Linked DNA regions of Homo sapiens. The protein of the gene in region 4 purifies or fractionates together with the protein of the main gene of each other region. This does not show direct contact. Each region holds a gene or a part of one and is shown on either strand. Other genes may lie near its edges.

Evidence for each region.
Region 1: the proteins of APBB2 (region 4) and ATP7A purify together in Homo sapiens (affinity purification with mass spectrometry; 4 studies listed by BioGRID and IntAct, with this or other methods). This does not show direct contact.
Region 2: the proteins of APBB2 (region 4) and APLP1 purify together in Homo sapiens (affinity purification with mass spectrometry; 4 studies listed by BioGRID and IntAct, with this or other methods). This does not show direct contact.
Region 3: the proteins of APBB2 (region 4) and TBC1D2B purify together in Homo sapiens (affinity purification with mass spectrometry; 4 studies listed by BioGRID and IntAct, with this or other methods). This does not show direct contact.

What each region holds. Positions count from the first base shown.
Region 1 is NC_000023.11:77,906,336-77,913,697, forward strand, and holds the start of ATP7A (copper-transporting ATPase 1), read left to right. Parts: upstream 1-4,357; 5' UTR 4,358-4,500; intron 4,501-7,362. UniProt on the Homo sapiens protein: ATP-driven copper (Cu(+)) ion pump that plays an important role in intracellular copper ion homeostasis.
Region 2 is NC_000019.10:35,863,941-35,871,587, forward strand, and holds the start of APLP1 (amyloid beta precursor like protein 1 isoform 1 precursor), read left to right. Parts: upstream 1-4,633; 5' UTR 4,634-4,696; coding exon 4,697-4,843; intron 4,844-5,151; exon of another isoform or gene 5,152-5,417; intron 5,418-5,726; coding exon 5,727-5,870; intron 5,871-6,955; coding exon 6,956-7,088; intron 7,089-7,296; coding exon 7,297-7,409; intron 7,410-7,647. Other genes in the region: KIRREL2 (kin of IRRE-like protein 2 isoform c precursor), read left to right, coding at 708-773, 2,217-2,552. UniProt on the Homo sapiens protein: May play a role in postsynaptic function. The C-terminal gamma-secretase processed fragment, ALID1, activates transcription activation through APBB1 (Fe65) binding. Couples to JIP signal transduction through C-terminal binding.
Region 3 is NC_000015.10:78,074,704-78,082,347, reverse strand, and holds the start of TBC1D2B (TBC1 domain family member 2B), read left to right. Parts: upstream 1-4,636; 5' UTR 4,637-4,695; coding exon 4,696-5,055; intron 5,056-7,644. UniProt on the Homo sapiens protein: GTPase-activating protein that plays a role in the early steps of endocytosis.
Region 4 is NC_000004.12:41,204,527-41,211,547, reverse strand, and holds part of APBB2 (amyloid beta precursor protein binding family B member 2), read left to right. Parts: intron 1-7,021. UniProt on the Homo sapiens protein: Plays a role in the maintenance of lens transparency, and may also play a role in muscle cell strength. Involved in hippocampal neurite branching and neuromuscular junction formation, as a result plays a role in spatial memory functioning.

The DNA.
Region 1 (7,362 bases), on a different chromosome or scaffold from region 4:
GCGGAGTGGTCCTATAAAACAAACTCGTAGCCTGTCTGAAGACTAGCTACTAGCTCCTTGGCTGTTTTGGCATATTCATCTTGATTATAGCTCTTGGTCTTTCATCATATTAGGGATGTTTATGATGTTATTAAAGAAAATCTTGTCAAATGCAGTCTGTTCCTAGTTATCTACTATCAGTCACCTGTTGTATAATTATAACAATGTTTGGATTTGTGGATTATTATTTTAGTATATAACATTGGATTTTATGTATGTTACCTGAAGAAGAGCAATATCTGTACCACATATTTCTTTGTTTTTCTTTTTTGAGATGAAGTCTCACTCTGTTGCCCAGGCTGGAGTGCAGTGGTGTGATCTTGACACACTGCAACCTTTGCCTCCCGGATTCAAGTGATTCTCCTGTCTCAGCCTCCCTAGTAACTGGAATTACAGGCGCCTGCCACCATGCCTGGCTAATTTTTGTATTTTTAGTAGAGATGGGGTTTCACCATGTTGGCCAACCTGGTCTTGAACTCCTGACCTCAGGCGATCCACCCACCTCAGCCTCCCAAAGTGCTAGGCTTACAGGCATGAGACACCGCGCCCGGCTTATATATCATTACTTTCTTGGCTGAGAGCTGTAGTCTGTGGTAGTTGTTTTGTTTTGTTTTTTGTTTTTTTTTTGTAGTTTTCTTGATCGTGATCAATTAAGCAGAAAGTAGAATTTCAGTCAGGTAACCTGTCTATATTAGCTAAATTATCTTTTGCTTATTACATAGAGTGCTAGAAGTATGCTGTCATGGCATATGTCCTAGTTTCTCATCAAATGGACCAAAGTCAGTGATTTTATTTGAAGAGGAAAAATTGAACGTCATTGTAAATTAAGTTGCAAGTTTAGTAACCATATTGTACCACTGTTTGATAAATTTGAACGCTTTATGGTATTTCATATTTAGAATGTTCAAAATAGTACTGAAGTATTCAAATACATACAACCCTGAGCGATATTGAAGTAAAATAAACATGTATTTAAGGAAGTGTCAACCTTCAATTATATACCTTTTTGTCACTGAATTAACACTTATTTCTCACGACGTGGAAGCAGTTTCAGTATGGTTTGTACTAAGCTAAGTGATAGTTGTCATCTGTATGACAATTTAGAATGTTTTCTGTGTCCATTTGTGATCAAAATTATATGTTGCTTTGTGTGATAAAACCTGGTGGTGGTAGTAACTTTGAACACACTTTTTGAACTTAATTTTGTAGTTAATCTTATCCTGATGAGTAATTCTAAAACTTATGACCACTACTAGAAATGAAGCAGTTTTTTGTGTGTGTGTGCCATCACAGTATATACTGACCTTGGAGCTTTCCTAGTGCTCTCAGAGCCATGAAAATATCCTTTCACACAAATTTTCTCAACTTACCCGTAACATCGCTTTGAGTTTCAGTCATACCTAGAGTTGGAAAGTCGTCAAATTAGTCCTCTGTCCTCAAGTATCTGTAAGTCTGAAGAATTTAGGTAAGTTACTTACCTTAAAATCATTGCCAATCCTTTAAACTCTATTTGGATGGCTGTGAAATATTTTAACATTAGGGTTAATGTCATAAATCCCATTCTTTTTTTTTTTTTGAGACCGAGTTTTGCTCTGTCATCCAGGCTGGAGTTCAGTGGTGTGATTTTGGCTCACTGCAACCTCCGCCTCCTGGGTTCAAGGGATTCTGCCTCGGCCTCCCAAGTAGCTGGAATTACAGGCGCCCACCATCACACCTGGTTAATTTTTATATTTTTAGTAGAGACAGGGTTTTGTCATGTTGGCCAGGCTGGTCTCGAACTCCTGACCTCAGGCGATCCACCTGCCTCGGCCTCCCAAAGTGCTGGGATTACAGTCGTGAGCCACGGTGCCCAACCTCATAAATCTCATTCTTAATTTCACTCTAGGACAGAATTATTGTAGCACCTGTGTTCTGTTATTTTAGATTCATTTTAACTTACCTAGACACGGGTACTGTGGTAGTTGTAGAGGTACAGATGTTGAGTTCCCATCCTCCTGGCTTAATGTCACTGGGGTTATTAATACACTTCATAAGCATTTTAGGGACACCTGCTGTCTGCTCAACCCCCAGCAAACCTGATTATTTCTTGAAGACATTCCCTTCTATGCTTGTGCATTGGTAAGGAGGATTAGGGATGATGCATTTAAAGACAAGAGTTTTAGGCTGGGCCTGGTGGCTCATATCTGTAATCCCAGCACTTTGGGCAGCTGAGGTGGGAGGATCATTTGAGGCCAAGAGTTCGAGACCAGCCTGGGCAACAAAGGGAGACTCCCATCTCCACACACAAAAAAATAAAAACTAGCCAGGTGTGGTGGTGTGTGCCCATAGTTCCAACTACTTGGGAGGCTGAGGTGCAAGGATCGCTTTAGCCCCGGAGTTTAAGGTTACAAGGACCTATGATCACACTTCTGCACTCCAGCCTGGGTGACAGCAAGACTCTCAAAACCAAACAACAACAAAATATATATATAGCTCTCTAGGTTTTTATGTTAAATATTAGAGTGCCTAAGAATGTACATGGTTGGCAGAGGATCTTGCAGCTCATAGTGATAAACTTTAGTATTTACATAAAAATACTAGATAGCTAGTAGATTCAATGTTCTGCTTCTGAAAAAGATATATTTTTGGTTTTGCCTTTTAGTGAATTTCTTTTGGATGCTTAACACAATGTTAATATAGTTACAAACCAACTTGCTAATATTTGGAAACCCACTTAAAAGCTATCTTCATTTCATATGATGTGATTTTTAAGATTTTAAATTTGGGGCTGAGTTTGTATCTTAATAATTAAGGCTGCACACATTGACAACTACAAAATAATGCCTGGGAAGATGAGTCCTGAGGCTAATTTTATATTTATGTGGATGAGTGTGGAGGGGGATAATAATTCTGAAATACTTAATCACAGACCTAAAATGTAGATCTATGGGTAATTTTAAATGTTGCCTGTCAAGGCTTAATAGGGACTTGACAACAGCTAGGATGGAAATTATTTCAACACTTAAATATGCTTACTTTGTGCCGGACGCTGTTCTAAGTCTTTTACAAATATTTACTTGATATTTGTATTTTGTGTACTATTTTGATTTCTGCAACATTATTAGGCTTCATACTCTTCTGTGGGAACTGGGTTCAAATGGTTCCAGATGAAAATACAAATAGTCCTGTGATTAGTTTTGTTCTACATCTTATGACAGATACTTCATGAAAGGAAATATGAAAAGGCCACATCTTGCTTTGAAATAAGTGAGATGGAGCCTCTCCCTCTTTTTACTGTTAATGTTCATAGTTTTAAAAATCCTAGAATTTTGCTGCTTTTCAAAATGTTAAGTTGGAAAGCAAGAATAAAATGACCCTTTTTTCAAATGTTTTCTGTACCATTTATTGCATTGTTTACATTTTATGCATCTCATTTCTAAATGAACTCATGGTAACAGAGACTGTAACACTTTTGCATCACCGGAATCTTCTAGGTGTGTAAAATGATGGACGAGTGAATGAATAAATGGGGGAGTGGTTCAGAGCTTGGAATGGCGCTATGAAGGTGGTGAAGTGACGTCCCTACCCCCTCAACACACATATAAAAATTATGAATTTATAAACATTTTCCTCTTGATGTAATTTTTCAATGGAGGGAAGAGGATAAATTCATAGTTCTGGCACTTACATCTGGAATTAGGCTACACAGTCTACGGGAAGCAAGTTAACACAGTCTAACAGATGCACGTGAATTTCATGCTGGGCGAAGATGAACTATGTGGAAGATGACTTATAAGGAGCTTTTATGTTACATCTTGGCAGTTAACACAGTCTAACTGATGCACGTGAATTTCATGCTGGGCGAAGATGAACTATGTGGAAGATGACTTATAAGGAGCTTTTATGTTACATCTTGGCAGTTAACACAGTCTAACAGATGCACGTGAATTTCATGCTAGGCAAAGATGAACTATGTGGAAGATGACTTATAAGGATCTTTTATGTTACATCTTGGCCTGAGGTTAGGAAACTAAAGATGACAAAGGCACTGTTTTAGTATGGGTTTTCTGGTTTCGCTTTTGTCGTGGGGGCGGGGTGGGATAGTGGACTCGTACCCTAACAAAGACCCACTCGAGGCTGCGTGTCGGCCCGGGGGCAGCAGGGGGCAGGAGAAGCTGGCTCTAGACCACGCGTTCCTTTTCACGTGACCAGTCGCTCTCTTTCCCGTGGCGGCCCTGCTTCCGGCAGGGGCATCACCCGGAAGTGGGGGTAGTCGAGGGAGGGAGGGGTAAAGGCGGCTGGCCGCCGCGGCGGGGGGTGGGAAAAGAGAAGCAGAGGGAGGAGTTGTTGCTGCCGCCGCCGCAGCCGCAGCTACTGTGACTTCTCCGATTGTGTGAGCTTTGTTGGAGCCTGCGTACGTGGATTTATCGCTGCCACGGTCTGCGTAGCTCCAGAGGTTTAACCATAGGATAGAGAAACCAGGTAAGTCCTACATTGGCTTCCCGTCGTCCTTTCTCCTGGAGGGGGTCTTCTGTGCTGTCAGTTTGTACTACGAGTGTGGTGAGAAGGTCATGTTAGTCTGGGGCAGTCTCGAAAGTTTCACTTATTCACAATTCAGGTATTAACTACATTTATGTTTTACCTCCCCTAACAGGGGATAGAGGAGGGGAAATTAAATCCTGACCTGTGTCACTTTCTTGTACCCTCTTGGAGAGAATGTCCTGATCATCCATGGCCTACGTTACCCAATTAATTGAGGGTACAAGAAAGTTTGTGTTTGGCATTGAAAGTCACATGGACTGGGGTCTTTGCTTAGTGACACCTCTTTATACTTTGGAAGCTAAGGTTACTAAAATGACCATAATTGATGAAATAATAATTGAAAAATAGATATTTGGCTTCTTGTCTTGCTCTGGGAGCGTAAGGTAAACTGAGAGAACTCTTGTTTCCACTTAGTTTTGTTCATTGTGCCCCCTTTCCAGTAAAGTTACTGTCCATTGTCCGACCCTGTGGCATCTTATCTTTGACACTTTTCTTCGTTGTAGACGTTGAGATTATCTTAAGCACAAACACTTATCGTTTCACAATTCAGCGTTTGTCCAGGATCTGATCTTTATTTTAATCACAGACTCTTTATCTACAATAGTATGGCTTTGTATTGAGAATATGTGCAGAACATTGAATTAGATGATACTGAGGTTATTAATTTTTTTTTTTTTTTGCCGGGTGCGGGGGGGTGGTGGGGAGGGGGTGATGCACAAGAAATAAGACAGAGTTCCTGGCCTCAAAAGAGTTTACTTACAGTAGGCTGGGCGCAGTGTCTGACACACCTGTAATACCAACACTTTGGGAGGCCGAGGAGGGTGGATCACCTGAGGTCAGGAGATCGAGACCAGCCTGGCCATCATGGCGAAACCCTGTCTTTACTAAAAATACAAAAATTAGCTGGGCGTGGTGGCGGGCGCCTGTAATCCCAGCTAGTCGGGAGACTGAGGCAAGAGGATCGCTTGAACCTGGGAGGCGGATGTTGCAGTGAGCCGAGATCGTGCCACTGCACTCCAGCCTGGGCTACAAGAGCGAAACTGTCTCCAAAAAAGAAGAAAGAAAAATAAACAGTTTACATACAATTGAGTCCGAATTGAGTCAGTTGAATTCAGCTATGAAGACAACGGTTTCTAGCAGCCCCACTGACTGAATTACTAGGTTGCTTATCACATCCTTTTCAATGGTTATTTTTGAACTGGCATTTTATTATATTTAACATTTTCTGGTGTCTAAGGTCATGACATGAGAGAGTTTTTTTTGTACTTGAGGATCTCAATGTAGTAGGAAAGAAAGATACACGATTACCTAAACATTTAAAAAATCTCACTAACGTTATATATTAGAAACAGGAGGTGTTATGAGAGTGCAGGGAAGGGAGCATGTGAACTGGGCTTTGAAAAATAGATAGGATTTAGCTTTGCAGGAATGGAGGAAGAGGAAGACATCTATCTGGACTGATAGATAGAAGAAATAATGTGAGCAAAGCCATGGGGGTCTGGAAAGTTGCCCGACATCCAGTAACACACTGTAAGTCAATATTCCTATTTCTAACAGCCACATCTTCCAAGATGTCACTGATTAAAATTAGAAAAAATATAGAATACAAAACTAGTCAGCTCACAAACATATCCAACTGCCCTCCAGCCAATAAGAAAGCTTATATAGAGAAAAAAATACATGGAAATGACAAAAGCAATGTTAATGTATGAGGCTTAATTCTGATGTAAACTCAAATCTAAAAGAGAAAAAATGTAAAACTCGCTATACTTTAATTCTGATTGAGTGTTGTGCCTTAAATATAATTTGGAATCATTTTTAAAATTGTTGGGAATGAATAACATTTTCTGAAGTGAGCAACTGTTCCAGGTTTTCCCCAAGGAATCTCTGCTTTTCCTTTTTTCCTCTAAATTGATTTCTCTCTATTGATCTTCTTAACTTGATAGGAACTATTCTATTCCGATCACAGCCTTAGAAAGATCTTGATGCCTGCCCTCAAGATAAGGTTAAACACTAATCCCTCCAAAGGATAGGTTAACATCTCTGTTCTCTAAAGCAGAAGGTTGATTTTCTTTGAAAAATGCTTGCAGAAGCAGTAAAATTTGCTTACAAAACAAGAGAGAGAGAGAAAAGAGTGCAAAAATAACCCCAGCTAACACACCACAACCTTCACTTCTGTGAGGGCGCTAAAGGAAATACATTTTAAAAAAATAAATTCCTTGTTATAACTCCTTTTATCTATATATTTAAAAGCTCTTGGCAAACTTTATTAATCAAGACTTTGGACATCCTGATGAGTGAAAATAATCTTCATTTGCCAGTTGGGAAAGTAAATTGCAAGGAGAGATTTTTGTCTGAACTCATAGAAGCACTAGCATAGATGAGAATAGTATTTGGGAGTTTTGTCTCAAAATTCCTTCTATTCATCTTTGTTAAAGGGCAGTTCAGGTTTTAGCGTTTTGTTTTTAGACAACGATATTTCTTAGGATATAGCTCAACATGGGGCCGGGGCAAGGGGGAGGCTGGGGGACAGATGAGTGATAGGCAATGGTTAGGCAGAGTATTTTAGTTCACTCTACCATCCCAGCAATCATGTTTTTCCCTCTTAAATCTCAGTCTTCAGGTTGATTTAATGTGATATTACTTGCTTACTTAACTTGCTGAGATAGTTTGGCAGGAAAAATATCAAAATTCCTTTAGAATGTGTTTCATTAAAGTAAAAGGGTCCTGTGTTTCTGATTTTATAAAATGTTCTTACTTTTTCCAGCACTGTTTGCAAATTGAAGTGATTTCCTAATCTTT
Region 2 (7,647 bases), on a different chromosome or scaffold from region 4:
TTTTTTTGTATTTTTAGTAGAGACGAGGTGTATACCGTGTTAGCCAGGATGGTCTGGATCTCCTGACCTCGTGATCCGCTCGTCTCGGCCTCCCAAAGTGCTGGGATTACAGGCGTGAGCCACCGCGCCCGGCCAAGGGCTCTAGTCTTAACAGTGACCCCACACCCAAATGTCACCCAAGTCCATGCCCCTGACCCAATTATTCCCTAGGCCCAGTATGTCCCCACAGCCCGTTTTTGTTGTTGTTGTTGTTGTTGTTGTTGTTTTTGAGATAGAGTCTTGCTCTGTCGTCCAAGCTGGAATGCAGTGGTGCAATCCAGACTCACTGCACCCTCCACCTCCCAGTTCAAGTGATTCTCGTTCCTTAGCCTCCTGAGTAGCTGAAATTACAGGTGCCTGCCACCATGCCTGCCTATTTTTTGCATTTTTAGTAGAGACAGAGTTTCGGCATGTTAGCCAGGCTGGTCTCAAACTTCTGGCCTCAAGTGATACTCCTGCTGCGGCCTCCCAAAGTGCTGGGATTACATGCATGAGCCACTGTGCTGGCTTCTTACAGCCCTTTTATTGTCCTGAGTGCAGTCCCCAGCTCTTGGGTGCTCTTACTCCCTCCTGCCTGGCCTCCACTGGCTGGCTGAAGGTCCTTGGGGTCTGGCATTGGGGCGGGGGGATCCTCTGACTATTCCCTCTCACTAAGTTCCCTACCCCAGGGCCCCATTGTGCACACTGACCACAGTGATCTGGTTCTGGAGGAGGAAGGGACTCTGGAGACCAAGGTGAGTGTTGAGAGGGGTGGGGCTCCCTTCACTGTTGGGAGAGGCGGGGCTCCCTTCATTGTGTTTCCGTCTCTCTCCCACGCCTGTCCCCTCCTTTTTCCTTCTGTTGTCCTCAGAGTTGGGACTCAGCTCCCCACCCCACTCCTCCTGCCCCCTGGGCCATCTCACTCAGCTCCCAGCCTCAGTTTGCCTGTCTGCAGACTCTTCCCACACATCTGTCCCAGCCCTAGCCTCCATCTGGAGCCCCAGACCAGGGCTCACCCTGCCTGTGCTCTCCTCATCACGGTCAAGCCCCCTTTCAGCCACCAGGTCCTACACTGGCCCCACATCTCCCCAGACTGGTTCTTCCTCTGGGGTCCTACCTCAGGACAGCCACATTGACTCCAGGCCATCCCCAGGCCAGAGCACTTCTCTCTCTCTCTCTCTCCTGCGTACCTAGCACATGCCATTCTCTCTCTTCTTTTTTTTTTTTTTTTTTTTGAGACGGAGTCTCATTCTGTTGCCCAGGCTGGAGTGCAGTGGTGCAATCTCAGCTCACTGCAACCTCTGCCTCCTGGGTTCAAGCCATTCTCCTGCCTCAGGCTCCCTAATAGCTGGCTAATTTTTCTTGTATTTTTAGTAGAGATGGAGTTTCACCATGTTGGCCAGGCTGATCTGGAACTCCTGACCTCAAGTGATCCGCTCGCCCCAGCCTCCCAAAGTGCTGGGATTACAGGCGTGAGCCACTGTGCCCAGCCGACATGCCATTCTCTTGGCCTGAAACACTCCTACCTTCCTTCCCATGTCTACCTAATTCCTTCCTTTAGTCCTCCAGTCTCAGCTCAGACATTTCTTGTTCTAGGAAGCCCATGCTTCCGTCATGACAGCTCGATCATTTTGCCTGTGTTCCACCCATCACAGCCATGACCACTCTGATCTGGGCTTCCTTATCCCACCCACTATGCTGAGGGCTCTACCATCACAGCCCCTGTCATTGCCTATGCCTTTCCCAGGCACAGCCCTGACCCCTCTGGGTACTGTCTCATGATCTGTCATTTTTCCTTTGGTGTGGGATTCTGTGAGGACAGGGTCCAGTTCTATCCTAGTGACATGCCTTGTAGCAGCAACACAGGGTGTGACACTGAATCAAAGCCTAGAGGCTGTTGGGCAGGTGAGTGTCTCTCTCCTGTTCCCTCTGCACCTTCCACACCGACACCCCTCAGCAGGCCTATATCCCTCCGTCTCTACCTTTCTCTGCCTATGTCCTATCCATTTGCCTCTTATCACTGTTCCTCTGTCTCACTTTCTCTCTCTCCCAGTCCATGTGTGTCTCTGTGTCTCTGCCCACTCCTGTCTCTTTTTGTCTCTCTCAAGGTCTGGTCTATTTCAGTGTGTCTCTCCATCAGTGACCCTCATCCCCCCTGCACGCTCACAGACTTTACTGAGTCCCATTTGTCCCCTCAGGACCCAACCAACGGTTACTACAAGGTCCGAGGAGTCAGTGTGAGCCTGAGCCTTGGCGAAGCCCCTGGAGGAGGTCTCTTCCTGCCACCACCCTCCCCCCTTGGGCCCCCAGGGACCCCTACCTTCTATGACTTCAACCCACACCTGGGCATGGTCCCCCCCTGCAGACTTTACAGAGCCAGGGCAGGCTATCTCACCACACCCCACCCTCGAGCTTTCACCAGCTACATCAAACCCACATCCTTTGGGCCCCCAGATCTGGCCCCCGGGACTCCCCCCTTCCCATATGCTGCCTTCCCCACACCTAGCCACCCGCGTCTCCAGACTCACGTGTGACATCTTTCCAATGGAAGAGTCCTGGGATCTCCAACTTGCCATAATGGATTGTTCTGATTTCTGAGGAGCCAGGACAAGTTGGCGACCTTACTCCTCCAAAACTGAACACAAGGGGAGGGAAAGATCATTACATTTGTCAGGAGCATTTGTATACAGTCAGCTCAGCCAAAGGAGATGCCCCAAGTGGGAGCAACATGGCCACCCAATATGCCCACCTATTCCCCGGTGTAAAAGAGATTCAAGATGGCAGGTAGGCCCTTTGAGGAGAGATGGGGACAGGGCAGTGGGTGTTGGGAGTTTGGGGCCGGGATGGAAGTTGTTTCTAGCCACTGAAAGAAGATATTTCAAGATGACCATCTGCATTGAGAGGAAAGGTAGCATAGGATAGATGAAGATGAAGAGCATACCAGGCCCCACCCTGGCTCTCCCTGAGGGGAACTTTGCTCGGCCAATGGAAATGCAGCCAAGATGGCCATATACTCCCTAGGAACCCAAGATGGCCACCATCTTGATTTTACTTTCCTTAAAGACTCAGAAAGACTTGGACCCAAGGAGTGGGGATACAGTGAGAATTACCACTGTTGGGGCAAAATATTGGGATAAAAATATTTATGTTTAATAATAAAAAAAAGTCAAAGAGGCAAGTGTGTCTTAGGGAGTCTACTGGCATTATCACTCTCCACCAAGGAAGGGGTCCCTTAGACCTGTCCCAAGGTCCCTCCTCTACCCTAGCCTATGAGGTGGCTGTAGGAGTAAAACTGTGAGCCACCTCTCAGCCTCTTGCTACCTGCAAAGCACTCTAGGCTCTTTTTTTTTTTTTCTTGAGACAAGATCTGGCTCTATGGCCCACATTGGAGTGCAGTGGCATGATCTCAGCCCACTGCTACCTCTGCATCCTGGGCTCAAGCCATCCTTCCACCTCAGCCTCCCAAGTAGCTGGGACTACAGGTGCATGCCACCACACCCAGCTAATTTTTGTATTTGTTTGTAGACAGGGTTTCACCATGTTGGCCAGGCTGGTCTCAAACTCCTGACCTCAAGTGATCCGCCCACCTAGGCCTCCCAATGTGCTGGGATTACAGGCATGAGCCACTGTGCCCAGCCATGGGCTCTTTTAATATACATCTTCACACACACACACACACACACACACACGCACACACACACATGAGTTGCAAACAGAAAAGACACACACATAGGCATGTATGCACAGACACACGCATAGATGTCCACACAGTTGCACACAAGTGACAGGGCTGCCCCAGGGGTCCTGGGGAAGACTGAATTCTAACTCTCATTAGAGGAGACAAACAAGTGAGCCCTGAAGTGGAGCAGGGAAGGGGAGACTATGGGTAGGAAAATGGCAATCCCCTGGTCCTTACAGCAAGCGTGGAGATCCAGACCCTAATCCTGAGGTGCTGCATCCACAGTGGGCATGGTGCTGGTGCCTGCTTGGATGATCCTTAAAGAAAGGTCCTGGGGGCTTTGGTTCATGGATCCTTGAGCTAGGAGTTAAAGGTCCAGGCCCCTGGGACCCTTGGGAAGCAGAGCAAGAAGAGTGAACTCCTGGGTCTGAAGGAGAATGGGCTGGGGGCTTGGTCTCTGGTCCTGAGAGAGAAGGTGCCCAGACTTCTGGATCTGAAAGAGGAAGGGACTAGGTCTCAACTGCTGCCTTCTTGACTGGGGACATTTTGGAGGCCTGTATTCCTGAGCCCTCAACAGAGGAATGTACTAGGGGATGGGGGTCTCTGATGCTTGCATCCTTGGAAAAGGACAAAACTGTGAGTGTCTGGGTCTAAAGAGGGTGAGAGTCCTGCGGGAGGACTCAAAATCCACAACGGGCGGAGCCCATAGCCGGACTCCTGGCTGGGCCCTTCATGGGGCGGGACGCCTGGAATCTCGAGGGGCGGGGGCCTGGCGCAGGCTCCCGCCCGGGGTTCCCGAGCTGCTCCACTCTGCGCGAAGCCGCCACGCTATTGTCCTGACCAGGAAGGCGGGGCCGGCGCGGGGCGGGGCTGGCGGCGCCGGCGCAGCCCGGGGGCGGCGGGAGGAGGAGGTGGCGGCGGTGGCGCTGGGAGCTCCTGTCACCGCTGGGGCCGGGCCGGGCGGGAGTGCAGGGGACGTGAGGGCGCAAGGGCCGGGACATGGGGCCCGCCAGCCCCGCTGCTCGCGGTCTAAGTCGCCGCCCGGGCCAGCCGCCGCTGCCGCTGCTGCTGCCACTATTGCTGCTGCTTCTGCGCGCGCAGCCCGCCATCGGGAGCCTGGCCGGTGGGAGCCCCGGCGCGGCCGAGGTGAGGCCGGGCCGGGTCCTGGGGGATGGGGGAAGGGGCGGGACCGGGTCTCTGGACGCCGGCGCGGACATGTCCAGGGCAGAAAGCGCGGTCTTTCCAGCCAGGTGGTCAGCCCCCAGGCGCCCCCAATCACATTTATGAACCCAGGGTTCCAGGCCCCAGCTCCCCCATCATGCGACGTCCCAGCCCCCTCCCATCTCGAGCATAGGAACTGGTCTATTCAGAGCCCCTGGTCCCAGAAGTCCAGCCCCCTCTCCAGACCCAGGTGACTCGGCCCCAACCCCCTCCCGCCTGGACATAGGACCCACCAAGCAGCGAGGCATTTAGATCCAATAATCCAGACCCCTTGTATTCTCTGGACCCATATGGAGGCCCTTGCAGCCTCCCAGGACCCAGGAGTCCAGTCCTTCAGTCACCACCCACCCCAACCAGATGTAGCTCTCCAGTCCTCAAGGACCTGGTGTCCAGGACTGTAGGCCCCTGAAGCCAGGCCTTGTCAGCTTTGCATCCTGCAACGGGAGCCTGAGCAAGGGATGGAGGGAGGAGGGGCCAGAACTCCTGGGTTCTGGCCTCCTCCTCCGCGATTCAGGTTTAACCCCTTCGGGCTCCAGAGCGGCTGCGCTGGGGTGGGGGCGGAGTCTGTCTCCGCGGCAACAAGGCAGAAAGAATCCCGGGGGACCCAGGTCGCCATAGCAACGGGAGCGCTGGGGCGCCCCCGCCCTACGGGAGCTGTTTCCCAGGGAACGGTGCCTCCATGGAGGCGGTGTGCGGTGCTTGGGGGAGGGGGCTGGTGCTGGGGGTCTCGGTCCTAGGGAGCAAAGAACCAGGGGACCCTCATGCCAACGCCCCCCGAGCCCTCACTGTCCTTTCCACTTCCATCCAGGCCCCGGGGTCGGCCCAGGTGGCTGGACTATGCGGGCGCCTAACCCTTCACCGGGACCTGCGCACCGGCCGCTGGGAACCAGACCCACAGCGCTCTCGACGCTGTCTCCGGGACCCGCAGCGCGTGCTGGAGTACTGCAGACAGGTGGGCGGGGCCGAACGGGAGAGGCGGGGCCGCCCATAGAAAGCTAGACTTGAAAAAGGCGTGGTCCAGGGTGCTGCGCGATCTAAGGCGTGGAGGCTGGGGGGCGTGGCCAATAAAGAGGCGCAACTATGCTAGGGGCAGGGGACCTGTTTTGAGATACTAAGTCAGGAAAAGGGGAGAGCCGCGAGATAGCCAGAGAGGAAGTGGAATTTAGGAATCTGGTGGTCTTTGTAAAGAGTAGAGGTGTAGGGGGGAGTGGCGAAAGGATAGGCGGGGCTAAGACAGAAAGAGACCTTAAGGACCAGCAAGATGGGGAAAGGGGTGGAGCCCAATGAGAGCGCGGAGAGCTGGGGGGGCGTGGCCATGAAAAGACAAATTTATAACGGGAAGGGAGAGTTTTGGAGAGGCGGAATAGAGGAAAAGGCGGGGCCTAAAGGAGGGTGAGACCTTTGGGGAGACGAATCTGACTGCGGGGAGGGGTGACCAGAGAGGTGGGCTTAGAGGGACCTTCAGAAAGAAACAGCACAGGAAAAGAGATAGGGCTTAAAGATGACGGGACTTTTAAGGGAAAACTGCTAGTGGGCGTGGCCAATGAGCACAAGGAGCTTGGATATCTAAGGCTGGTGCTAGGGAGAAGCAGGGCCTAGGGAAGCGATGTCCTCATGAATACTAGAGCCTTGAAAACGGACCTGGCCGGGCGCGGTGGCTCACGCCTGTAATCGCAGCACTTGGGGAGGCCGAGGCAGGCGGATCACCTGAGGTCAGAAGTTCGAGACCAGCCTGGCCAACACGGCGAAACTCCGTCTCTACTAAAAATACAAAAATTAGCCTGGCATGGTGGTGCGTGCCTGTAATCCCAGCTACTCAGGAGGCTGAGACAGGAGAATCGCTTGAACCTGGGAGGAGGAGGTTGCAGTGAGCCGAGATTGTACCATTCCACTCCAGCCTGGGCGACAAGAGCAAATCTCCGTCTCAAAGAAAGAAAGAAAGAGGGAGAAAGAAAGAGAAAAGGGACCTGACTACTGGAGAGGGGTGGCTGGCAGGGGCGGGGCAGTGGGCTGATTGCCCCCATCTGATCCCCCCAGATGTACCCGGAGCTGCAGATTGCACGTGTGGAGCAGGCTACGCAGGCCATCCCCATGGAGCGCTGGTGCGGGGGTTCCCGGAGCGGCAGCTGCGCCCACCCCCACCACCAGGTTGTGCCCTTCCGCTGCCTGCGTGAGTCCCAGGCGGGGAGAGGGGAACTGAGGTGGGAGTTTCTGAGGGGCAAGGTTCTGAGCCCCTCTCTCAGGCCTACATTAAGGGGCTGGGTGCTTGTGTCCTAAGTGGGGCAGAGAAGCCTCTGAGGATAAAATATCTGGATTCTGAGGAGGGTGGGGTTGGTGGCTATAGGAGGATCTCACCCTGGTGTCCCGTGCTTCCCCAGCTGGTGAATTTGTGAGTGAGGCCCTGCTGGTGCCTGAAGGCTGCCGGTTCTTGCACCAGGAGCGCATGGACCAATGTGAGAGTTCAACCCGGAGGCATCAGGAGGCACAGGAGGTCAGGACGTTGGCCCACCCGTCCCCAGCCCCCACAACCCAGGAACTGGGACCTCTAACACCCTCCGCCACCAGAACCGAGGAGTCTGGGCCACCAGCATCCTCTTCGCACTTGGGATCTAAGAATTTCATCCCCCAACCCCTTCCTCTAGAAGCAGGAATCCAGGCTCCCAGCCTCATCAACCCCCAACCCTGGCAGCCCAGTTCCCCATCTACCCCCTCCCATCCCACAATCCTGG
Region 3 (7,644 bases), on a different chromosome or scaffold from region 4:
TGACCACAGGACATCACTGTTTAATCTAAGAGACCTCAGGAACTGCAGATGTCAACAAACCATTTACGAAGGGTTTCAGGGAATTAGGAGCCACCAGAGACAGCCCCAACATTTCCATGTAGGAGGCCCTTGGGAAGAACTGAAGCTATATCTATTTACATAAACTATAAACATTGTCCAGACTGAAGATGGAGGTACTAAGAGAGATGAGATAAAGCCCCATTGCCTAGTTCTCCTCAGCTCATGGCCCTAGGAATGAGGGGAGAAGGGTTTGTTCACGAAATAAAAAGCATTTCAGCAGGGTCTTGAGAGAGTCAGTGGGGAAGAGGGGCCTGGGGGAGGTCTAGAGAGTCAAGAGGGTTTTAGGGTTGATTCTGGAGGCTCTAGGGATCCTTGGAAGGCTTGGGCCACTTCCTAAGCCTGGTCGGGTAGACAGAGACTCAGGGCCCTCCAGGGGACCCTCCTGAGACATTGCTGTTGGCTTTGAGGCCTCCATACTTTACCACTCTCACTGGGGACTCAGGCCTGTGTCTGTGCAGCCTCCTCAGAGGGCCATATTCTGGACCCGGCCAGACCGAGGCAGGGGCCAGGCCAGTTTATCCCCTAATATACTAAAAAGCTCAGTGCCTGGGCCTGCCTGCTTGAGAGGCCTGTGAAATGTTTGTGGCCTAAGAAAAATGTATTGGCTCTAAAACCCAAGAAAAACAGCAAAATTAGAATTAATGAACATCTAATTAAATGTCTACAAATGTAACATGTCACCTTTATAGTCATCATAAAAATGTCATAACAGAGCTGGGCACCTTGGCTCATGCCTTAATCCCAGCACTCTGGGAGGCCAAGGTGGGAGGATCACTTGAGACCAGGAGTTTGAGACCAGCCTGGGCAACATAGCAGAGACCTATCTCTACAAAAAATACAAAAATTAGCTGAGCGTGGTGCTGCGCACACCTGTGGTTCCAGCTACTCAGGAGGCTGAGGTGGGAGGATTGCCTGAGCCCAGGAGGGGGAGGTTGCAGTGAGTTGAGGTAGCGTCACCGCACTCCAGCCTGGGTGACACAATGAGACCCATCTCCAAAAAAAAAAAAAAAAAAAAGGTCATTACATTTGAGAACAATTTCTAGGTTAGGTTTCTCTCACTTGGCCAAAATTCCCACACAGACACGATGATTGCCAAGAAATCAGCCAATTAAAAATGAAAATGAAAACTCATAATTAGATAATATCAAGAGCACAATTATGGATATTCCTGAAAACATTTTCATAGCAAAAATTATGTATATGTTTACTACGGGATGTAGAGCATTTTAATATGTTTGATATGATGTCAGGTGTGGCCTCCAGAAGGAAGAGGGCAGTGGCTTACAAGCATTTTATTTATTTTTATTATTATTATTATTTTGAGACAGAGCCTTGCTCTGTTACCCAGGCTGGAGTGCAGTGGCACGATCTTGGTTCACTGCAACCTCCTCCTCCCAGACTCAAGCGATTCTCCTGCCTCGGCCTCCTGAGTAGCTGGGATTACAGGCACGTGCCACCGTGCCTGGCTCATTTTTGTATTTTTAGTAGAGATTGGTTTTCACCATGTTGCCCAGGCAGGTCTCAAACTCCTGACCTTGTGATCTGCCCTCCTTGGCCTCCCAAAGTGCTGGGATTACAGGCGTGAGCCACCACACTCAGCCCTGCAAGCATTTTAAAATGGCCCCAGCTCATCTGTGCTGGGTGACCAGGGAAGGATTGGAGGCTCAGGTGTAGGGGAGTCAGGCTGAAGTCCAGCTTGCCCACTGAGGGGCACAGACAGCAGGTACGGTTCTGCATGCCAGGCCCTGGCGGATACAGCAGTGAACAAACCAATCATTCTCCTACCCTCGTGGAGATTATATTCTAGTAAGGCAGGGAGGTGACACACAAGAAAGCAGATAAAAGTAATGTGTGCTATGTTGTATAAATGCCGTGATGACATGTAGATGATTACCGCTTAAAACAGCACCCCTGTCCCGTCCCATCTGCCTAGCCCTGGCCAGCCAGCCCAGACTCTTAGTCCAGGAGGGGGGCTCGTGGCTTGTGCCTGTGAAGGATGCCTTCCTCGGGCCTAGCAGACATCGGCCCCCGTGAGACACCTCATGGGGCTTGGTCCTGTCCACTGGGACCACAGGTCATGGCCACCCCCACTTCCTTATAACTTACTGATAGATCTAGGAGAGATGGGCTACACCCTCCCCTGTCCTGTTGCCTCCCTGTACCATGGCAATACAGACCGGGTTCTCCCAGCTCTTCCCTTTCCCACAGTATTTCAAGGTCAGACCTCACCCTGACTGCCTACCCCACAAGCCAATTAGTCACAGCCCCTTTTACATACATGGTGAGGCCCAAATTGAACTTGGGACCCCTTGCTCCCGAGAGCAGCCCACTCCACTCCCGCAGCACCGCAGTGTCTGGCCTCCCTTGTCTGGGCCCGGTCTGACTGTTGGATTCCCCCTCTCCGAATCTGCTGACTGATGAGGAAGACATCGGTGTTAACTGCAAGATGATAATAATAACAGCTGATATGTGCTGAGTGCTTACTATGTGTGAGGCACCGTGCTAAGCACTTTCATATGCATTTCTCACGTAACCCTTTCAATAACAACAGCACGAGATAGCTACTTGTATTTATCAACCCTGTTTTATAAATGAAGAGACTGAGGCCCAGAGAGGTTAAATCACTTGCCCAAGGTCATGCCTCTGGTAAGTGGCAGAGCTAGGAGACACATCTGGTCAGTGTGAAGTCAGAGCCCAGTCCTTAACACTGTGCTGATTGTGCTCAAAGACAGGTGGAGAGGTCAGCCACACCTCTGATGGGCCCCAGGAAAGGAATGCTTGCGTGGTGCCACTTTAGGGCCTGCAGAGAGTCGGCAGGCTGGGTGAGGACCCAGAACCTGCCCTTCCTACCTGGGTGGCTCCAAACAGGCAGTCTAATTTGTGTCCCTGTCCAGCTCAGAAAGGTCAGTTTTCCACCTGGGTCTTTCAGTGTGTCTGTATAAAACATGCAAATCTATGAGGGTGAGATATTTGGTTTGGGCTTTCACAAATGTAGCTATGTAGCTATACACTTCCTTTTTCCTTTGAATAAAGTGAGCTCTTGTACTCACTATTCCCTCTCCCTGGAATGCTTCACCCACATTTCTGGTTGCCCCTGTCCCTCCCATCATCTGGGTTTGTGCTCCATGTCACAGGATCAGACCAGCCTCCTTGCCTGTCCTGGGGCAGCAGCCTGCTATCTGCCCCCCATCACTTCATCCTCTCACTTTGCTTTTTACTTATTTTTTATTCTTGTGGGAACATAGTAGGTGTATATATTTATGGGTTACATGAGATATTTTAATACAGGCATGCAATGCATAATAATCAAATCAGGGTAAGTAAGGTATCCATCACCTCAAGCATTTATCCTTTGTGTTACAAACAATCCTATTATACTTTTTTTTTTCTTTTTAGACAGAGTTTTGCTCTTGTTGCCCAGGCTGGAGTGCAATGGCGCAACCTCGGCTCACTGCAACCTCCACCTCCGGGGTTCAAGAGATTCTCTTGCTTCAGCCTCCCGAGTAGCTGGGATTACAGGCATGCACCACCACGCCCAGCTAATTTTGTATTTTTAGTAGAGACAGGGTTTCTTCATGTTGGTCAGGCTGGTCTCGAACTCCCGACCTCAGGTGATCCACCCACCTCGGCCTCCCAAACTGCTGGGATTACAGGCGTGAACCACCGCGTCTGTATTATACTCTTTTGGTTATTTTTAAACGTACAATTATATTATTTTTGACTGTAGTCACCCTGTTGTGCTAGCAAATACTTGGTCTTATTCATTCTTTCTCTTTGCTTTATTACAAAGCAATAGATTTGCCTTCTCAGGTTGTGAGTGTTCAAATAAGTTAGTCTATAAAGCACTGATAAATACTAGGTGCTATTTTAAGCGGTAATCATTTACATGTCATCACGGCATTTATACAACATAGCACACATTACTTTTATCTGCTTTCTTGTGTGTCACCTCCCTGCCTTACTAGAATATAACCTCCACGAGGGCAGGAGAATGATTGGTTTGTTCACTGCTGTATCCGCCAGGGCCTGGCATACAGAACCGTACCCGGCATTCAGAAGGCGCTCAATAAATATATGTTGAATTCAATAAATGAACTGAGGTCTGGAGAGGCAGGAAACGCTTTGGCTTTCATGAATTCTGCAAATATTTACTGAGCACCCACTCAGCACCAGGCAATAGGCTGTCTCATTTTTACAATATTAGCTTGAGACTCTGGCAGGAGGGAGATTTAAATATCAAGTTTTTAGAATAAGATACACAGTGTGAAATGCAGTTTTAAGCGGACACTCCGCTGGGTTTTGAGAGATGCACACTCCCATGTACCTACACTGCCATAAAGAAATAGACCATTGCTTCATCCGGCAGGGCGAGGACTTGGAGCCCAGGTGGCACGAAGGCAACTGACCCGCGGGGTGCTGGTCGCAGGACCCTGCCTCCGGGGGCTGAGGGGGCAACGGCCGGCGGGCGGGCGGGGGCGAGACTACAAGTCCCAGGGTGCTTTGCGCGCCCGCGGGCCGTGCGGAGCGAAGGGGCGGTGCGGAGGGGGTAGGGGGCGCAGCGGCCGCGGCGCGGAGGCGCAGGGCGCGGGCGCCTACGGTTGGCGCGCGGTAGCGATGCCGGGGGCCGGAGCCCGGGCGGAGGAGGGCGGCGGCGGCGGCGAGGGCGCGGCGCAGGGGGCGGCCGCGGAGCCCGGGGCGGGTCCGGCGCGGGAGCCAGCGCGGCTGTGTGGCTATCTGCAGAAGCTGTCGGGCAAGGGCCCCCTGCGTGGCTACCGCAGCCGCTGGTTCGTGTTCGACGCGCGCCGCTGCTACCTTTACTATTTCAAGAGTCCGCAGGACGCGCTGCCCCTCGGCCACTTGGACATCGCGGACGCCTGCTTCAGCTACCAGGGCCCCGACGAGGCGGCGGAGCCGGGCACGGAGCCGCCCGCGCACTTCCAGGTGCACAGCGCGGGAGCCGTCACGGTGCTCAAGGTGGGACCGCTCGCCCCAAAGCCGCCCGCGCGCTTCCGCCGGCGTCCCCTGCCTCCGCCACTGGCTTGCGCCATCCACCCTCCTTCCTCCAAGGCCTCCTCGCCCCTGCCCACGTCGGCCTGCCTTTCCCTGCTTCTCCACATCCCGCCCTCGTTCCTATCTCCTCCCCACTATCTGGGCTTAGGCCAGTCTCGCTGGGGCTACCAAGCCCCGTCTCCTTTCTCAGACACCTTGACCCATTATCTCCCTCTGCGCCTAACCTCGGGCCAGTCTCTGGTGTCTCCCGACCCCCACCATCCCGTGGATGTCCTGTGCAGCCTTCCCAGGCATCCGTGAGCGTAGGCTTCTACCCCTGGGGCCTCCTTTAGAACTTTGCCTATGGCCTTGGTACCTCAGTGAACCGCTCTGGGCTGCAGCGGCCTCCTCTGTAAAATGGGATAACAGTAGTATCTACCTCATGGGGTGTTGGGATTAAATGAATTATACTTTAAACTGCTCAGTAAATGTCAGTGCTTTTATTTATTTGTTTATTTATTCTTTTTGAGACAGGATCTTGTTCTGTTGTCCAGGCTGGAGTGCAGGGGTGCGATCTCGGCTCACTGCAGCCTCCATGCCTGGGCTCAAGAGATCCTCCCACCTCAGCCTCCCAAGTAGCTGGGACCACAGGTGCGGGCCACCACGCCTGGCTAATTAAATTTTTTTTTTTTTTTAAAGAAACGGGGGTCTCACTATGTTGCCCAGGCTAGTCTCGAACTCCTGGGCCGAAACCATCCTCCCCATCCAGCTTCCCAAAGTGCTGGGATGCCAGGCGTGAGCCAGAGTGCATTTAGCACTGTAGACAGAAAGAGTCAGATGGCAGGGCCCTTAGAGACAGTCCACTACATTTTCCTCCAGAGTGGACGGGGATGCTCCAGCTAAGGTCACACAGCCAGTAGGTGGCAGATCCTGTGTTCTTCCTCCTTGCTTTGTCCAGGATGGGTGGGAGGGGGTCTTTTCAGCCAGTTATGCCTTGCTCCTTTGAGGCTCCCTTAATCCTCCAGTGGACAGACAAAATGAGAGATACAGTGTAGAAGCAGGAGAGTAGAGTCAGGAGTCCTGGTGCTGAAAGGCCTCCCCTGTCCTTGGGAGTTCTGGGGGACTAGACTGTCACCTCCTAGGGGCCCACCTGCTTTGAGCATCTGGAGGGATCTGGGCCCAGGCCTGGAGCTGGGTATCCTTTTTCCAGGCTTTGCTCCCTGCCTGGTTTCTGTGAGTCTCCACCCTCACTCTCACTCCTCTTCCGTATTCCAGGTTGGGCTTTCTCCAGAGCAACAGGGTTGGGCTGGGATGTATGAAAGTGCTCTCAAAGCTGGCCACACGGAGAGCAGACTAGGCAAACTCCTGGCCTTGTGAGCTGAGGACTGTTCCTCAGACCCCCAGAGCTGCTAACAGCTGGAGCTGCTCCCTGGAGATGTTCTTAGAGCTTTGCTGACTCAGCTTTTGCCAGTTCAAGCAGGATCTGATTCCCATGTTCTCTTGGGCTCCCCTGTCCTGTCTGTAAGTGGGTGCAGACAGCCTGTTTCCCCAAAGAAAACCAACTCGGGTTGCAGTCCTACACAGGCTTACTTAGAGAGTGCCTGTATAAACTTGGTAATGACCCTAGTGGGAGACCTTTGCCAAAGGCAGAGGCTCTTCCTCAGTGTACATACGGGCTGTCCCTGTGTCGGACGAATTTCCTGTGGGATGTTTGTTAAAGAAAATAGAGCATCGTGTTTCACATTTTTCCCAGATGACTGTAGAACTCTATCAGTTTTTTTCATTAAAATAATCTGAATCTCCTGTAATCCCAGCACTTTGGGAGGCCGAGACGGGTGGATCACGAGGTCAGGAGCTCGAGACCATCCTGGCTAACACGGTGACACCCCATGTCTATTAAATATACAAAAAATTAGCCAGGCATGGTGGCGGGTGCCTGTAGTCCCAGTTATTCGGGAGGCTGAGGCAGGAGAATGGCGTGAACCCGGGAGGAAGAGCTTGCAGTGAGCAGAGATCGCGCCACTGCACTCAGCCTGGGTGACAGAGTGAGACTCCATCTCAAAAAAAATTAAAAAAAAAATAATAAATAAGAATCTACATAAGCAGGGTTACAAGGCGCATTGTCAGAAGTGTGGCTTTAAACTTCGATGGACTTGAACTTGAAGCAGGAGTCTGCTGCTCACACATATTGGACAAATTACACCAGTTCCCTGCTCCAGTTTCCTCTTTGGTCTAGTGGGAATCATACCTTCCTCATTAGGTGGCTGTGAGGATTCTGGAGAATGTTATGGAAAATGGCTGGCGCATTTTCCATAGTGGTATGGAAAATAGTAGGCACTACATGGCATATGAAACATCAAGCAGTGTCTTTGGCCAAATATGTAGTGTATTCATATAGTGGAATATTATGCAGTAGTAAACAAAGGTACTAGAGCTATAGGTGTCAACGTGGATTACTCTCACAAACAATAAAATTGAACAAGAAGTAAGTTACACACTGATTGTGTTCAGAATGATACCACTTATAGAAAGGTTAGGAAGATCATGTGAAACAGTACTACAGATCATAAGGAT
Region 4 (7,021 bases):
TCGCGCCACTGCACTCCAGCCTGGGCAAAAGGGTGAGACTCCGTCTCAAAATAAATACATAAATAAAATAAATAAATAAGTAAATAAATAACAAAACAAAACTGGACAATACCCTTGTGATATAACACCTTAAGTTTTCCGGGGGCGGGGGAGGGGAGCAGGTGGGACAGACTTTTAGGAAAATATTGTAATAAGTTATTACTGGTTATGGGGGGAATACTTATTTTCCTACATGGGGTTAGGAAACCAGCATTTGTTCAGTGCCTAGTATTATTATTATTATTATTATTTTTGAGACAGAGTTTCAGTCTGTCACCCAGGCTGGAGTGTAGTGGCGCGATCTTGGCTCACTGTAACCTCCACCTCCCAGGTTCAAGTAATTCTCCTGCCTCAGCCTCCTGAGTAGCTGGGATTCCAGGTGCCCGCCACCACGCCTGGCTAATTTTTGTAATTTTAGTAGAAATGGGGTTTCACCATGTTGGCCAGGCTGGTCTCCAAGTCCTGACCTCAGGAGGTCCACCAGTCTCGGTCTCCCAAAGTGCTGGGATTACAGGCGTGAGCCATCACGCCTGGTCTGTTCAGTGCTTTTTATGTGTCCTATTATCCTATTAAGGTTTTGTATATATCATCTTATGCTGTAAGCATCTATGCATAAATGTCAGCTGTCTAAGAAAACCCCTCTGAAAAGGTAGATGCTCGTGATTTCACAGCAATAGAGCTTTAAACTTTTATCTTATATGAAAATATCTTTAATTGATTCCATTATTATTCAGTAAGCATTCTCTTTTAAAGCATCTTTGATTTGTTATTTAGAATTAAATTTGATTGGAACTGCATATCTTCAGAATGATTTGAATGTTTTCAAGAAGGTTCTATCCAGATTTTAAAACTGTTTTGTGTTCATTTATTTTCAATAATGTTGCACTACCAACAAATGAAATTAGATGTCAGAAGATAAACCCAGATTAGCCATTTTGATTTTAATGTGTTATTAGTGCATATTCTGCATGCTGATATGTGTTGACGGCATTTCTCTCAGCCGAAATGGTTTGTCAGAGGCAGAGTAACAGACTCTCCATAATAAAGGGTCTGGGGGGATTTGGAGGAAAGACTACTAACCAGGGACCCCAAAGACTTGCCTTTGGGGCTGGCTTGTCCCTTACTTCAATTCACTGTGTTACCTGGAAAAAGTCAGTTATGTCTCTGGGCCTGTTTTCCCATCTGTAAAATGAGAGAGCTGCAGTCACCCTCTGGTTGTCTATCGGGTCCTTCTTGTCCCAGTCTAGAGATCTGTGATGCAGCCATTCGAGGAGAGAGGTCTTCGTTTAAGAGCAGGGGTCCCCAGCCCCCTGCTTCGGACCTGAACTGGTCAGTGGCCTATTAGGAACCGGGCCATAGAGCAGGAGGTGAGCGGCGGGCAAGTGACCTTTACCACCTGAGCTCCACCTCTGTCAGATCAGTGGTGGCATTTGATTCTCACAGGACTGTGAACCCTGTTGTGAACTGCACATGTGTGGGATCTTGGTTGTGCACTCCCTATGAGAATCTACTGCTTGTTGATCTGAGTTGGAACAGTTTCATCCCAATCCCCAACCCCATCCGTGGAAAAATTGTCTTCCATGAACGCTGTCTGGAGACCACTGGTTTAGAGCATTATTTGGAGGTGATTTTGTGTTTCCCTGTCTGGTTTGTCACTGCTTTGTCCAATGCCCTTCTTTTTTTGCCCAATTCCTACTTCCCTTATAGTTTTCATTTGTTATAAAATGGTTGTCATAAAATTAACTTTATGGCCCTGCCAGTCTAGTTAGCAGATAAGGTAATGATTAGATTTGGGTAAAGTGTATTCGACATTTGAAACTACTTCATAGCATTTTCTGCGGGGAGACTTTCTGCTCTTGAGCACACAGATAGTCTGAGAAAGAAACCTCTACCTAGGCTGCAGGGGAGGGGGTCCTGTGCTTTGCTTCCCAGGCCCACCCTTGTGAAATTTTGGCAAGCCTTTCCTGTGTCCCAGCCTTTGTCTCCTCGCCTCGATGAGAAATGCAGCCCTTGGTCTCTGGAATACGACTTTCACTCTCATTTGACGTTAGCCCTGTCACTGTGTTGGACAGATGCCTGTGATTGGCTGCTGCAGTAGCAGGAGTGGTGGCTGGTGAAATGTGTCTACTCAGTGTCATTAGCAGGATCATGAGCTTTTTTTTCTTTTTTCTTGGCAAGCTGCGATGGGGCAGAGAGCAAAGGAAACCAATCCCATTTGGTGTTTTTAGTGCATTTTGCTTTCAAGAGGCTCACAAAACTCAGCCTCATTAACCTTTAAGTGAGTCAGTGAGGAGTTGTTATCCCATTGAAATAATTTTTAATAAAGGGAGAGTGACTCTAGTTCCTCTAATAACCAGGCTCCAGGGTTCCTGGACCCCTGTTAGGAGTGGGTCATTAACTCCAGACATTAGATGAGAGCTGGGAGAGAGGAAGGGCATAGAGGGTGGAAGGTCAAGTCACACAACTGGGCAGGAAGTAAGAAGCTTGATCAGTTTAAAGGTATTAGAGCTCTTTGTGTGTAGAGTTACAGGAGATATTCCCTTTCTATATAATTTATTTCCATGGTGTTTGAATCTTATCTTGTTTTCTGTAATGGACGTATATTTATTTTATAATCAGAGAAAAATCCCAATATATAATTTATTGATATATAAAATGTACAGATTCACATGGACAAATACGAGAAGAGAACATGGAAAGAAATGAATGGTATAGAAAAGGATGGATTAAAGCTTTTCTTTGTTGTTGGTTAATGACTTGACAGTGGTTATAAACAAAGTTTACCAGTTCTACCCTCTCTTTTCCTCTTGTGGAAATCTTGCAAACTTTGTTTGCTAGGTAATAACTGAAGTTCCCGAAGTGTAACTCATTGGCAAGTATGCTTCAGGAATGCTTAGAGTGGGAGGAAGAGTGTCGTTTTTTTTAAGTTGATGAAAAAGAATGCAGAAACCGGGAGCAGTGGCTCATGCCTGTAATCCTAGCACTTTCGGAGGCCAAGGCAGGTGGCTCACTTGAGGTCGGGAGTTTGAGACCAGCCTGGCCAACATGGTGAAACCCCGTCTCTGCTAAAAATACAAAAATTAGCCGGGCATGGTGGCACACGCCTGTAATTTCAGCTACTCAGGAGGCTGAGGCAGGAGAATCGCTTGAACCCAGGAGGTGGAGGTTGCTGTGAGCTGAGACCGCGCCACTGCACTCCAGCCTGGGTGAAAGGGCGAGACTCTGTCTCAAAAAAAAGAATGCAGAATATTGGAATCGAGGTAGAAGGAAAAACGTGTGTTTAAGAGGGTGAGATAGATTGGAGAGACTTTGCGGAATTCCAGAGGGTAAAGGGAAATGCCATTGTTGAAGAAGGAAGGCCTGGCATTACTGGAGGTATGGGATGTGTCCCTGTCGTGTAAGTCAGAGCTCAGTTTCCACACAATATAAAAGTAAATGAGTATCTCCTATATGCAGAGCATAATGTTAGCCCCACAGGTCATTTATTGTTGGTTAGTGGTTTTCACTGTTCTTATCACAATGATGATAATGATGTAGTGAATATGTCATAATTGTTCAAATAAGAAGATATGTCCTTTTCTCTGATACTATGCCTTTCTCATTTTTGGGTAAGATTCTTTTATGATTTGATAGGAATATTTTTATCTAGCCGCTGAATGGTCCATGAAATTGGTAAGTCTGGGAATCTGGGCCTGAGATGCAGGGAGGCCTGCCCTTGGGATTGAGTTGAGTCATGGAGGCCAGGCCAACATGTGGAGTTTGTGGGTCAGCTGATGGGGCCCCTGGGCTTTCCAGGAATATAGAGTCACCCAAGGTCCTAGGAACTGTGAATGAGCTAATTTTGAAAGTGCCCTAGGAGCCAGTGACTATTTTTGAATTATAGCTTGAGAATGACAAGGAAAGCACCAAGATGAAAGATGAGGGTGTAAGGGAACAGAATGGGCAAGTGGTTGAAGTGTGAATTTCAGCAGGTGAACCTCAAGATGTATCTTGACATTTGATTCTTTGCATGCAGGCCTCTTTCTGGCAAAACAACACTCTTTAGCAATTCTTAGTTAGTGATTCTAGGAAATGGTGATGGGTGAAAGCCATAGAACCTAGAATTGTGTAATAGCCAGCTTGGCCCAGACCTCTGCAGTATCATTCCCTCCAGGGTGAGCCTTGAATTGCTGGAGGAAGCTTCAGAATGATTTGCTCATGGAATTGCTGTTATTCACCTTTAGTTTTGGTTGCTATTGTGGGGTGAAGAAGGAGTGTCAAAACAATAACAACAAATTATTTCCTTTTTTTTTTTTTTTTTTTTTTTTTTTGAGACGGAGTCTCACTTGGTCGCCCAGGCTGGAATGCAGTGGCTTAATCTCGGCTCACTGCAACCTCCACCTTCCAGGTTCAAGCAGTTTTCCTGCCTCAGCTACCCAAGTAGTTGGAACTACAGGTGCCCGCCACTGTATCCGGCTAATTTTTGTATTTTTAGTAGAGGCTGGGGTTTCACCACTTTGGCCAAGCAGGTCTCGAACTCCTGACCTCAAGTGATCTGCCCGCCTCAGCCTCTCAAAGTGCTGGGATTACAGGTATGGGTCCTCTCCCTGGCAGCATCCTGCTTGCTCTTTGGTGCTGGCTCTGTTCTTACCTTCTGATCTTCCTTCTGTTTCTCAGGTAGACTTCTGTCCTGGGCAAGAGTCGACCTGCCACATTGAGTATCACAATTTGCTAGGTGGTATTGTTTGTCAGTGGAAGTGAATAAATCAGAATTTCCTTAGCATGAGTTAGGTTTCTTGAGTTGTTTCATTCCTGGGGGAACTAATACCGTTAAAATTTCCTTGACATTTCAAGAAATGATCATATACCACATTGCAAATTTTGAACACAGCAGAGGCATGATTTGGGTGTAGAGACACCTTGGGAAGCATTGATTCAGACTCAGATTCTTCAGATTATCTGATCAGAACCTCTTGTCCTCTCCAAGAACCAAGGTCTGTGTATACCTTTTCCAGGACACTGGTGAAGAGAGACATTCATTTGGTGACATCCAGAAACCTCGGCTTCATTTGTTCCTTCCTTTGTTCAGCAAATGCTTATTGAGTACATAGTTTGTGCCTGGCACTGTGCTAAGTTCAGGAGGACAGAGAGGAATGTACCAGAACATTGGTTATAGGGTGCTGCAGTAGAGGCATGTGTGTGATGGGAGTGGAGGGGAAGGAAGGCTGTCCTAATCCTGCGAGAGTGGCAAGAGCTGTGGCTAGTGACTCCTCATGTAAAATTCCCACTACAGCAAACCCTTCAGCTGCTTCCTTTGTCATCTTTCCTTAACTCAATTTTATTCCTGCCTACCACCCAGGATTTGCTACTCCTTTTGTAAGGGAACTCGGGATTTGGCCTTTCAAATCTCTGTGGCAGTAGTTCTTAAGCAGGACAGTTTTGCTCACTGGGGAACATTTGGCAGTGACATTTTGGTCATGGTGACTGTGGAGGGATAACTACTGGCATCTAGTAGGAAGAGGCTAAGAATGCTACTAAATATCCTACAACATGTGCAAGGATAGCCCTAGAAGGAGGCAGCAGGGGTTTAGTGGTCAAGTCCCAGTGCTGCTCTGCAATTTAATAGCCATATGACAAAGGGCAACAGAATTGTACTTTGACAACAGAATTACACAGTGCTCAGTTTGCTCATCTGCAAATAGGAATACTAATTGTGCTTATATAATATGATTGTTGTGAAGATTTCATCAGTGAATGTATAAGGGCAGAGAACAATACTTGATGTGAGATAAGACCTTACTTAACGAGTATTTTTATTTTTAGTTTTAAACAAAAACTTTACCTTTTGACTCTAAAGAGCTTGAGTTTAGAGTATCCAGGGCAGTTGAGCTTGTAGCCCTACCTGTAAGTATGCTTTGGTGTAGGAAATGGCCATAGTTTTTGTGTTTTTCTAGTTCCTTTTTGTCCGTTGGCTTTATTTCCCATTGTCTCATCTCTTGAGATTTTTAATAGCTTTGCCTTTCATCCCTTTTTTCCCAGGGACCCAAATTTATGCCCTTAATGAGCTTTTCCCTAGAGGGCTGAGAATTATATTTATGATTTTCCTTAGCTCTGTCTATTTTGGGAATGGTGAGAAAATGGGAAGCGGGTCAGGGGAGATGTTGCATTACTTCCTGATTGCCATAGCTCCCTTCTCTGTAAAATCCCGTGAAGGATTGAGAGGCAGGTGGTAGTGCTTGCTTAGTAACTCTTCCCTTTACACCCACCAGCTCCACTCCCAAGTTGGGTGCCTACTACTTCCAAAATACCCCGTAATTGGGTCACAACATTATCTGCCTGCTTGGAATCATATTTAAAAATCAAAGCAAAGATGCAGACTATGTCAGCAGGATTTGAAATGTTTCCATCCTCTGCTTTGAGGCTTTGCAGAATTATTCTGAAAACAAAAGAAGGTAAACTTGTTATCCCAATGAGGTGGCAGTTTCTATGTGGCCTAGAATTATGCCTAATTTTTGCTTGTAAAAGGGCTCAAACCATGATCCTTTCTGACTTTCCACAGGGATGTGAGCTTTTGTGGACATCACTCAACAGATCAGATTTACTGTTGAATTTTCATAACATAATTGACTTGGAAAGCATTTCATTCAGTGTTTTGAATGGTGACTAGAGAGAAATTAAGAAGCTCAGTTGTTATATCTTTCGAATTCCTTTCCCATGACACAGTCATCTCTCCCCTGAATGAGAGCAGTGGCCTCCTGGCTTATCCAGCTCTGTTCACTCAGTTTGGCTTCCCAAGTGCTGGGCACTGTTCCAGATGCCACACGTGGACACTGACCAGGATGGCCACTGCCTCTACCTGCTCGGAGCTCTGGGTCTATAGAGAAAGGCTGACAGCTAAGGAATGAATGACGGTACTATGTGATACGTATTACTGGGAGAAATACTCAGTGCTTCCCAGACGAGCACTTATCCTGCTTGGGTGTGGGGAGTGTGTGGGGCAAAG